Regions from separate parts of the Homo sapiens genome. Here region 1 is linked to region 2. The links come from fine-mapping of genetic effects on gene expression. A gene starts in region 2. The other region holds a variant in brackets. All regions are shown on one strand. Distances are from middle to middle.

Region 1 (4,499 bases), 69 kb after region 2:
TCCAGGAAACAGTTAACCTCCTGGCCCTCAATGGTCAAGCATACCCGGGGCTCTGTGAGGGTAATGGCATGGGCTGGTGCTTGCCCCAGTACCCTCAGTCCTGCTGCTGGATCATCTGGTGAATGGCTTCTGACTCAGAGGACCTTCGTCCCCCAGGGCAGTGGGCCTTCCAGTGATTCCCTTGACATAAGGGGCATGGATGAGGGGGCGGCTTGTTTCTATTGGGACAATCTTTTTTAACGTGTCCTTGTAGACCGCACCGGAAGAAAGCCCTATTAGGCATTCGATTTGTTCAGGTTTTCCTTTTCCAGAGCCTCCAAAGTCCGCTTGCCTGAGGGCCATGACTGAAACGGTGGCCTTTTTTTTTTTTAATCTCGTTTGTCCCATTCCGACTGCTCCTCCTGATCTCTATTATAAAAAACCGAGGTTGCCAAGTTCAATAGGGTGTCTTAAGTTTTGCTCCAGGCCTAAGGTGGACTTTTGAAGTTTGTTTTCTAATGTCTGCAGCTGACCGAGTGATAAACTTAATCTTTAAGATTAGTTGGCCTTCAATAGAGTCAGGTGACAGGGAGGTATGCTTCCTCAGTGCCTCCCTTAGTCTCTCCAGAAAGGCAGTAGGATTTTCTTCCTTTCCCTGTGTTACAGTGGACATCACTGAAAAATTCACAGGCTTCTTCCTGGTTTTCCTTAGTCCTTCCAGCACGCAAGTTAGTAAATGTCTGCAGCACCAATCTCCATGTTCTGATTCTGTGTCTCAATGAGGGTCTGCACTGGGAACTGCCTGCTGGCCTGTAGGGAATCGTTCTCTTTCCTCTGTTGTCATCCTATCATTGACCTGACTGAGATACCAGAGATCGCCAAGCTCTCGGGCTGCAGTTATGGTGGCACTTCTCTCATTTGGGGTTAGTGTCTGATTTAGCAGTAACATTGCATCTCTCCATGTCAGATCAAAGGATTGTCCTAATTCTTGTAAAACATCAATATAGTCATCAGGGTTATCTGAGAATGTACCTAGGTCTATTTTAATTTGTTTCAAGTCTGAGAGGGAAAAAGGTACATACACTCTGACTGGGCTGAATTCTCCAGAATACATCTTGGGGACATTTTTGCCTTGAGGGGAATGTTTCTCATCTGAAAAAAAAAAAAAAAAAATATATATATATATATATGGATGCCAGCACCCCTAGTCATTTTCCGATGAGCATTAGTCCTAGAGTGTCCGCTGTGGTCTTAATGCTTATTCCTTTCCAGGGTGCGTAACCACTCATGGACCTCTGCTTATCGGATTAGTTATGCTTACTGATGTAGCAGTCTTGCACCCCTTTTCCCACCTTTCTTGACCACCAAGAAAGCAGTCCGGGCTGCTGGATTCTAGTGGTCCTTTACCAGCATGCCCAACGTCGCTTTTGCGCTCAGGGGTGAGTCCCAGAGTTGGGCTGGGTTCCTGAGTATTTCATGACAACCCAGCTGCCCCATCAAGATGCAGTCCCATAAACAACAGTTCTTGCACAAATTCGTTTCAGAGAGGGTGTAGGTAACCTTTTGAGTCAGGATTGAGATAGAGTTTTTTGATTCTGTGAGTACTTTAAGGCTTGACTGAGTGCAAACAGCTCGCACGTTTGAGCAGACCAATTGTTAGGCAATTTTCCTAACTCTGCTTCTACAAGAGTTTCCCTATCAATTACTGAATACCAATTGTGGGCTTTTTTTTTCTCCCCTCAATCACCGGGGAGGAACCATCTATGGTCCTGTCCTGAAGGGATTTCCTCCTGGGTCTGGTTAGACCTTTGTATGGTAATTAAGATTTAAATTCCTCATTAGGAAACCTTCTGGGTTAAGGGAATTTTTAGTGGTTAACGTTAAATCACCTTTGTCTAACAGAATAGCCCTATACTTTTAGATTTTTGAGTTAGTAAGCTACCTTTTTTTTTTTTCTTTTACTTAGGATAGCTCTGAACTGGTGAGGTGTGCTCACAATGAGGTTTCCTCTAAAGGTTATTTTTCTACTTTCTTCTGCTAGCAAAGCTGCTGCTGCTACCGATGGAATGCATTTGGGCCATCCGCGGGTTACTGGGTTAAGGATTTTTGATAGAAAGGCTACTGGTTGTCAGCGGTCTCAATGCAGCACTTCTCACAACGTGTTCCCAGGACGCCTGGGGTCTCGGAGGCCTGTTAGGGTCTGTTTTCATAGTGATACTGAGCCAGCATCACTCTTTTCCTCTCTCCTGCGATCCCCAGCACACAGTGGCGTTACTGTGGTCCCGTGGTGCGTGATGGCACAGGACAGAACACAGTGCATGCGAGATCCTATGGCTTCTACTGAGCCCACCACTCATCTCTCATTTGTTTATTTTAGAAAATAGTTTTTAAAAATATATTAAAAATATGTTAACATAATGGGTTTATTGCTAACATGTAATGTATTTAAAGCTATTTAAATTTCTAATAAGGTTAACATAATAGGTAAAATCCACAAAACAGAAGCTCTTTGGGGTTCTCAGCCATCTGGTCTTGAGACCAAAGAAATTGGGACCCCCCCCCCCCGGCATGGAGGGAAGCGTGTGCTCTGGCGCCCCCTGCCTAGACAGGCTGCCCCTGGCCGCGTGCTAGTTGTGTGACTGCTTGGGTAAGCCTTGGTTTGTCATCTGTAAAATGCAAGTATTGCTAGTACTGCTCTCACAGGGCTTTCATGAGCTTTCAACGATGTAACTAATCCAGATAAAGTGGATTATTTAGTGCAGAATAGACATTGCCTGTTATCATCTTAATAATGGGGAAAAAGAAGTACTTTAAAATTGTTAGCATCCAACACATTTCCTAAGTGTTTTTT[TA/A]ATTCCCAAAGCCTTTCACAGTAACAGACCAGCGTTAGAAGAAATGTAGACATTTTTAAGTTATTGGCAAGTTTTCCAAGTAATAAAATTGGTTTTAAACTGGAATAAGCTTCTGTGTTAAAATTCAGGTTTGGTTTTAGTTCTAGATGTTTGATTGCTTACTGTTACATCATGTAAAATGATTTGAATGAAAGTATAGAAAGAAGTAGACCATAGGGGATAATGAGAAACAATGTATTGAAATAGTTCCCATTTTGAAGTTTTTCTGAATGTACATTTAAATATTATATAACTTAGTAAAAAAGAAGAAATTAAGTTAATGAGAAAAATGAAATGTTTTTCAAATAATGGCTAATTTCCTGGTGTTGTGATGTGATTACTGGCTCTAATTTTATTCACTGGTTACGAGGCAGGAGTGAGCAGTTGAGCAGCCAGCGCGCATCGTGTGGGAGCCCGGAATCCTTGGGATCATTTCTGTAGGGTCTGGGCAGTTGGGATGATCAGATCTGAGGCCCTTTACACAGCAGGGTCACCGAGCTGCAGCCTTGATAATTCTTCAGTCCACACAGTTCAAATCGGTGGAACAGCTGCCCTCTGTAATTGTAGTTGGGCCTGAATGTAAACTTCCTGGTGTTTTATTTTAGTGATTGAAATATTCTCTGTGCACATATTATTCACTGGAAATGTCTTAAAGGGTTGTTGTAATGGAAATTCTTTACTCTGATACACACTTTACTCTGACAGAATAGTGGGGCGGGTGGATAATCACCATTCCCACATGTGGACAATATTGTGTTATTGTTATATTTGAAATCTGAAAATCAAATTTAATTTAAAACATAAATGACGTAAAACATAAGTCAAAAATATGGACAGTTCCAAATACATAGGACCCCTAAGCAATGTGGGGGTTAGGGGTACCAGCCTCCCATAGGGTCAGAAATCCTTGTGTAACTTTTGACTCTGCAAAACATAACTACTAATAGCCTACTGTTGACCAGAAGTCTTATCGATAACTTAGTTGATTAACATATTTTGTATGTTAGCCGGGCGCAGTGGCTCACGCCTGCAATCCCAGCACTTTGGGAGGCTGAGGTGGGTGGATCACAAGGTCAGGAAATCGAGACCATCCTGGCTAACACGGTGAAACCCCGTCTCTACTAAAAGTACAAAAAATTAGCTGGGCGTGGTGGTGGGCGCCTATAGTCCCAGCTACTCAGGAGGCTGAGGCAGGAGAATGGTGTGAACCCGGGAGGCGGAGCTTGCAGTGAGCCGAGATCGCACCACTGCCCTCCAGCCTGGGCAACAGAGACCCTGTCTCAAAAAACAAAAACAAAAGCAAAAAAAAAAACACCATATTTTTTATGTTATATGTATTATATATATTATACAGTATTCTTAAAGTGAGCTGAAGAAAATGTTAAGACAATCATGAAGAAGAGAAAATACATTTACTATTCTTAAGTATTGAAGTGGATCATCATGAAGGTCTTCATCCTCATCACCATTACCTTGAGTAGGCTGAGGAGGAAGCGGAGGGGTTGGTCTTGCTGTCTCAGGAGTGGCAGAGGCAGAGGAAAATCCTCCTGTAAGTGGACCCTCGCAGTTCAAACCCATGGTGTTCAAGGGTAAACTGTATTTGGTTTTGGTTAGTTGACCTTTTAAATC
Region 2 (4,000 bases):
ACAATGAAAAGTCAGTGTCACTCTTGGTCATCCTTAGAGGCAGCCACTACTAACATTTCTCCAGTATCTTTGCAAACATGAATGTATATATTTTCTTTGTCCCTATGCACAATGAGTAGCATACTTTATACACTATTCAGAACCTGGGTTTTTTTCTTGAAAATAAAAAAGATATTTCATATCAGCACATAAAGAATTCCTTTATTCCTAATGGCTGTATACTAATCCACTAAACGGATGCACCATAATTTATTTAACTCTCTCCCTATGGGTAGATATGTAAACTCTAATCTTTCCATACTAAAAACAATGCTGTACACATGAAATTGCACAAACTGGCTTGTCTATCCTAGGAAATCTCTAGATGGGCTTGCTGGATCAAAGGGGATGTCCATTATTAACACTAATACACTGCGGGTCACTAATGTTGAGAATTCCTGTTCACCAAAGGCATTTCTTTTATTTTTTATTTTAGAGACAGGATCTCCCTCTGTTGCCCAGGCTGGAGTGCAATGGCACAATCTCGGATCACTACAACCTCCACCTCCCGGGTTCAACCGATTCTCACGCCTCAGCCTCCCGAGTAGCTGGGATCACAGGAGCGCATCACCACGCCTGGCTAATTTTTGTATTTTCAGTAGAGATGAGGTTTCACTATATTGGCCAGGCTGGTCTCAAACTCTTGACTTCAAGTGATCCACCTGCCTCAGCCTCCCAAAGTGCTGAGATTACAGGCGTGAGCCACCGCACCCGGCTACCAGAGGAATTTTGTTATATTTATTTGTTTTTTTTGGAGACAGGGTCTTGCTCTGTTGCCCAGGCTGGAATGCAATGGCGCAATCTTGGCTCATTGCAACTTCCGCCTCCCGGGTTCAAGCGATTCTTCTGTCTCAGCCTCCCAAGTAGCTGGGACTACAAGCACATGCCACCACGCCCAGCTAATTTTTTTATTTTTAGTAGAGAGGGGGTTTAACCGTATTGCCCAGGCTGGTCTCGAATTCCTGACCTCAGGTGATCCGCCCGCCTCGGCCTCCCAAAGTGCTGTGATTACAGGCGTCAGTCACCGCGCCCGGCCACCAGAGGCATTTTAAATGATCGTCCACATTAGAAACAAAACGAAACGAAACAACTTGGAAAAGTGAGCAAAAGCCTTCAATGTGTTCTTTTCTCTGCCTTTGTGATCCGAAAGTCGTGCTGCGGTTTATATACTCCTAGGCGAGGGTCGCGTGCTAATGATCCCTTTCTTTTCAATATGCACCCGCGGTGGGACTTACAGAACCTTTATTTTCAACACGTAAGCAGTCACGCTTCCTCGAGCCTAAGGCTTTGTGCTATTCTTAAATGCTTTCCTCCTCCGACGCTGCGGCTCCCTCCTGAGCCCGTAGCTGCAGCGCGTTGGTGAGGAGCGCCGGCCCTGGGTGCCGCCCGCCACCCTGGAGGGACCGGTCCGGGGGAAAGTGCTCGGGAGAAGCCAGGGGCCCCGGCTGCGGTCGCTGGCCCGGGGCTCTGCGCACTCCCCAGTGCCCGGAAACCGCAGGCTGGCCCAGCTTGCGGGCCGGGTCCGCCCACGTGGGTGTGGGAAGCGCAGGGGACGCGGGCCGCCCGGCCAAGGTGCCCTTGCCAGGAACCGGCGCAGACACAGGCCCTGGGCGGCGCGGGAACCCGGCCAGTCCCACCGCGCGCTGCGCCGCAGGGGCCCCACTGCAGGTCGCCCCAAGACCGCGCGACGCTCGGCAGGGCGCCCACAGTCCTGTGGGTCAGAGAAATGTCACCTCCACGTCCCCGCTGGCCGGGAGCCGCTGGAGCCTAGCAACCGCCTGCCAGCCCCGGCCCAGCCCCAGCCGTTTTACGGCAGCGGGCCCCGCCCCCGTGCGCCACCGAGGGCGGGAAGGAGGCGTGCGGCACGAGCCAGCCAGTCCGCGCCACCATCTCTGGCCCTGCGCCCTGTCATTGGCCGAGAGCCGGGCGGCGCGGCGCGGCCGTAAGGCGTGGCCGGGTGTCGTGAGGCGGGCCTTCGGGCTGGCTCGCCGTCGGCTGCCGGGGGGTTGGCCGGGGTGTCATTGGCTCTGGGAAGCGGCAGCAGAGGCAGGGACCACTCGGGGTCTGGTGTCGGCACAGCCATGGCGGGCGCGTTGGTGCGGAAAGCGGCGGACTATGTCCGAAGCAAGGATTTCCGGGACTACCTCATGAGGTGACGAGCGCCGCAGGCCGAACCCCGCAACCCGGAGGGGCTCCCGGGAGGCTGCGACCCGTGCAGTCCGCGACGAGGGCGGCCGCGAGGACGCGGTGGCCCCGGGCAGCGGGTGGGCCGGGGCCCAGGCGAGAGGGTGCGCTTGTCAGGGGGGCCCCACCCGGATCCCTCCCGGACCGCCACACCCCGAAGCGGACGGCGTAGAGAGCCGGTGACAGTGGGCGCCTTTCAGGGCGGGGGTGACAGTGGGCGCCCCTCAGGGCGGGGGTGACAGTGGGTGTCCTCTCCCGGCAGGGTGACAGTGGGCGCTCCTCAGGGCGGGGGTGACAGTGGGTGTCCTCTCCCGGCAGGGTGACAGTGGGCGCCCCTCAAGGCAGGGGTGACATTGAGTCCCCTTCAGGGAGTGGGTGACGGTGGGCGTCCCTCCTGGCCAAGGTGACACTGGGGACGCCTCTCCTGGTAGGCATAACAGTGGACGCCCTTCCCGGCCAGAGTGGCAGTGGGGACCTGGAGGGACGAAAGCGACGGCGCTCCTCAGGACAGGGTGACCATGGGGACGCCTCTCCCGGCAGGGGTGACAGTGGGCGCCCCTCAGGGCAGGGTGACCCGGCAGGGGTGACAGAGGCTCGTTCCTCTCCCATGGTTGGCAGTGGGCACGTCCCTCCGGGCCAGTTGACAGTGGCTCGCTCCTCCGGGCGGGAGTGGTTTCCTGGCCGGTTTCTACCAGATCCTCGGAGTGGGTCGCCGGTCACCTGCGGCCGTCCAGGTGTGCCAGAGGCGGCGACCTGGGTGTGGGGTGGGGAGACGCCAGCGGGAGGCGCTGCTGAGAGCGCGGCGCGGCGCTGTTGGAGCGGAGCTTCGGGTGCGCCCAGCGCGCTTCTGGGACAGCGGAAATAAAATGTGCTGGCCTTGGGTTCGCCTTTCGGTTTTCTCATTCTAAGGACTTTAAGCTTGGGAGGAAGTACAATTTAAGATGTTTTTATATACGAAATTCTGTCAACCAAAGTAAAGTGACGTGTCTCTAAGGTCATACTTTTTCTTCTTGTTCTATTTTCTGTTAACTCCTCCTTTCCAGTTAGAAACAAAGAGCATTCGCGGTTGGAAAGCCTGAAAATACACTTTCTATAATTTATTTGCACCTCTCATCTTGGGGCGCTTGCTTTTATTTCAAAATATTGAATATAACTTTGAAGCAGTTTTAGGTTATTTAGGAGTGTAATTTTAGTTAGTTTTTCAGTGTATGATTTTAAAACCTAGGTACGTGTACAGCTGCGGTTTTTTTTCGGTAGTTAATAGTGTGGTCAAGAGGTAAAGAGATGAAAGCTGAGGAGGAATAAATCCTGTTATAACCACACAAAAGGGATAGTATGAAGGCAACTTGATTTTAGCAATAAAAAAGTTTTAAATCCTGAATTTTATTGCAAATACTGTTTACTTCTACTTTTATAGAGCAGTAGGGTAGGAAAAATAATTCAGTCTGCCATATGGTAAACTTGTAAACAGAAGCTTCACTTCTGACTTTCAAAAAAAGACATTTCTATGCTTAAATAGAACTACTATTAATTAAGATGGGTGTTTAGCACTGTGGAGCACAGCAATGTATCAGATTAATGGTAGTAAAAATGTGAACAAGGTAGCAGTCTGAGGGTATGCTCTCAATCCTTGCTGTTAAGTTTCTCTACAGCTTTGAATATTACTTTAGCTTTTTACTAATGTGTTGGATACTGAGCCTTCCTAATAGGTACAGCTAAGGATAACATTGTGTGGTAAAATTAAAAATACAGTTATGACACCTAGCTATATAAAAAT

The links. PIP is the estimated chance that this variant, and not a neighbour inherited with it, causes the effect.
Region 1: its variant is the best candidate, but not a certain one, in a credible set for the expression of MPC1 in whole blood (TOPMed, PIP 0.87).

The regions. Positions count from the first base shown.
Region 1 is chr6:166,311,521-166,316,019 of GRCh38, reverse strand. It overlaps LOC107986669 (a long non-coding RNA gene), which reads right to left. Exons shown (of 3, transcript XR_001744464.2): 3 at 1-1,131. Among named protein-coding and RNA genes, the nearest start is that of PRR18, 5.4 kb to the right of the region's middle. The variant TA/A (reference allele first, on the strand shown) is at 2,831.
Region 2 is chr6:166,380,997-166,384,996 of GRCh38, reverse strand. MPC1 (mitochondrial pyruvate carrier 1) reads left to right here and starts at 2,057. Exons shown (of 5, transcript NM_016098.4): 1 at 2,057-2,191. The coding sequence starts at 2,121. MPC1-DT (MPC1 divergent transcript) reads right to left here and starts at 1,819. Exons shown (of 1, transcript NR_189630.1): 1 at 1-1,819. RefSeq lists silencers at 1,385-2,124, 2,275-2,374 and an enhancer at 2,735-2,914.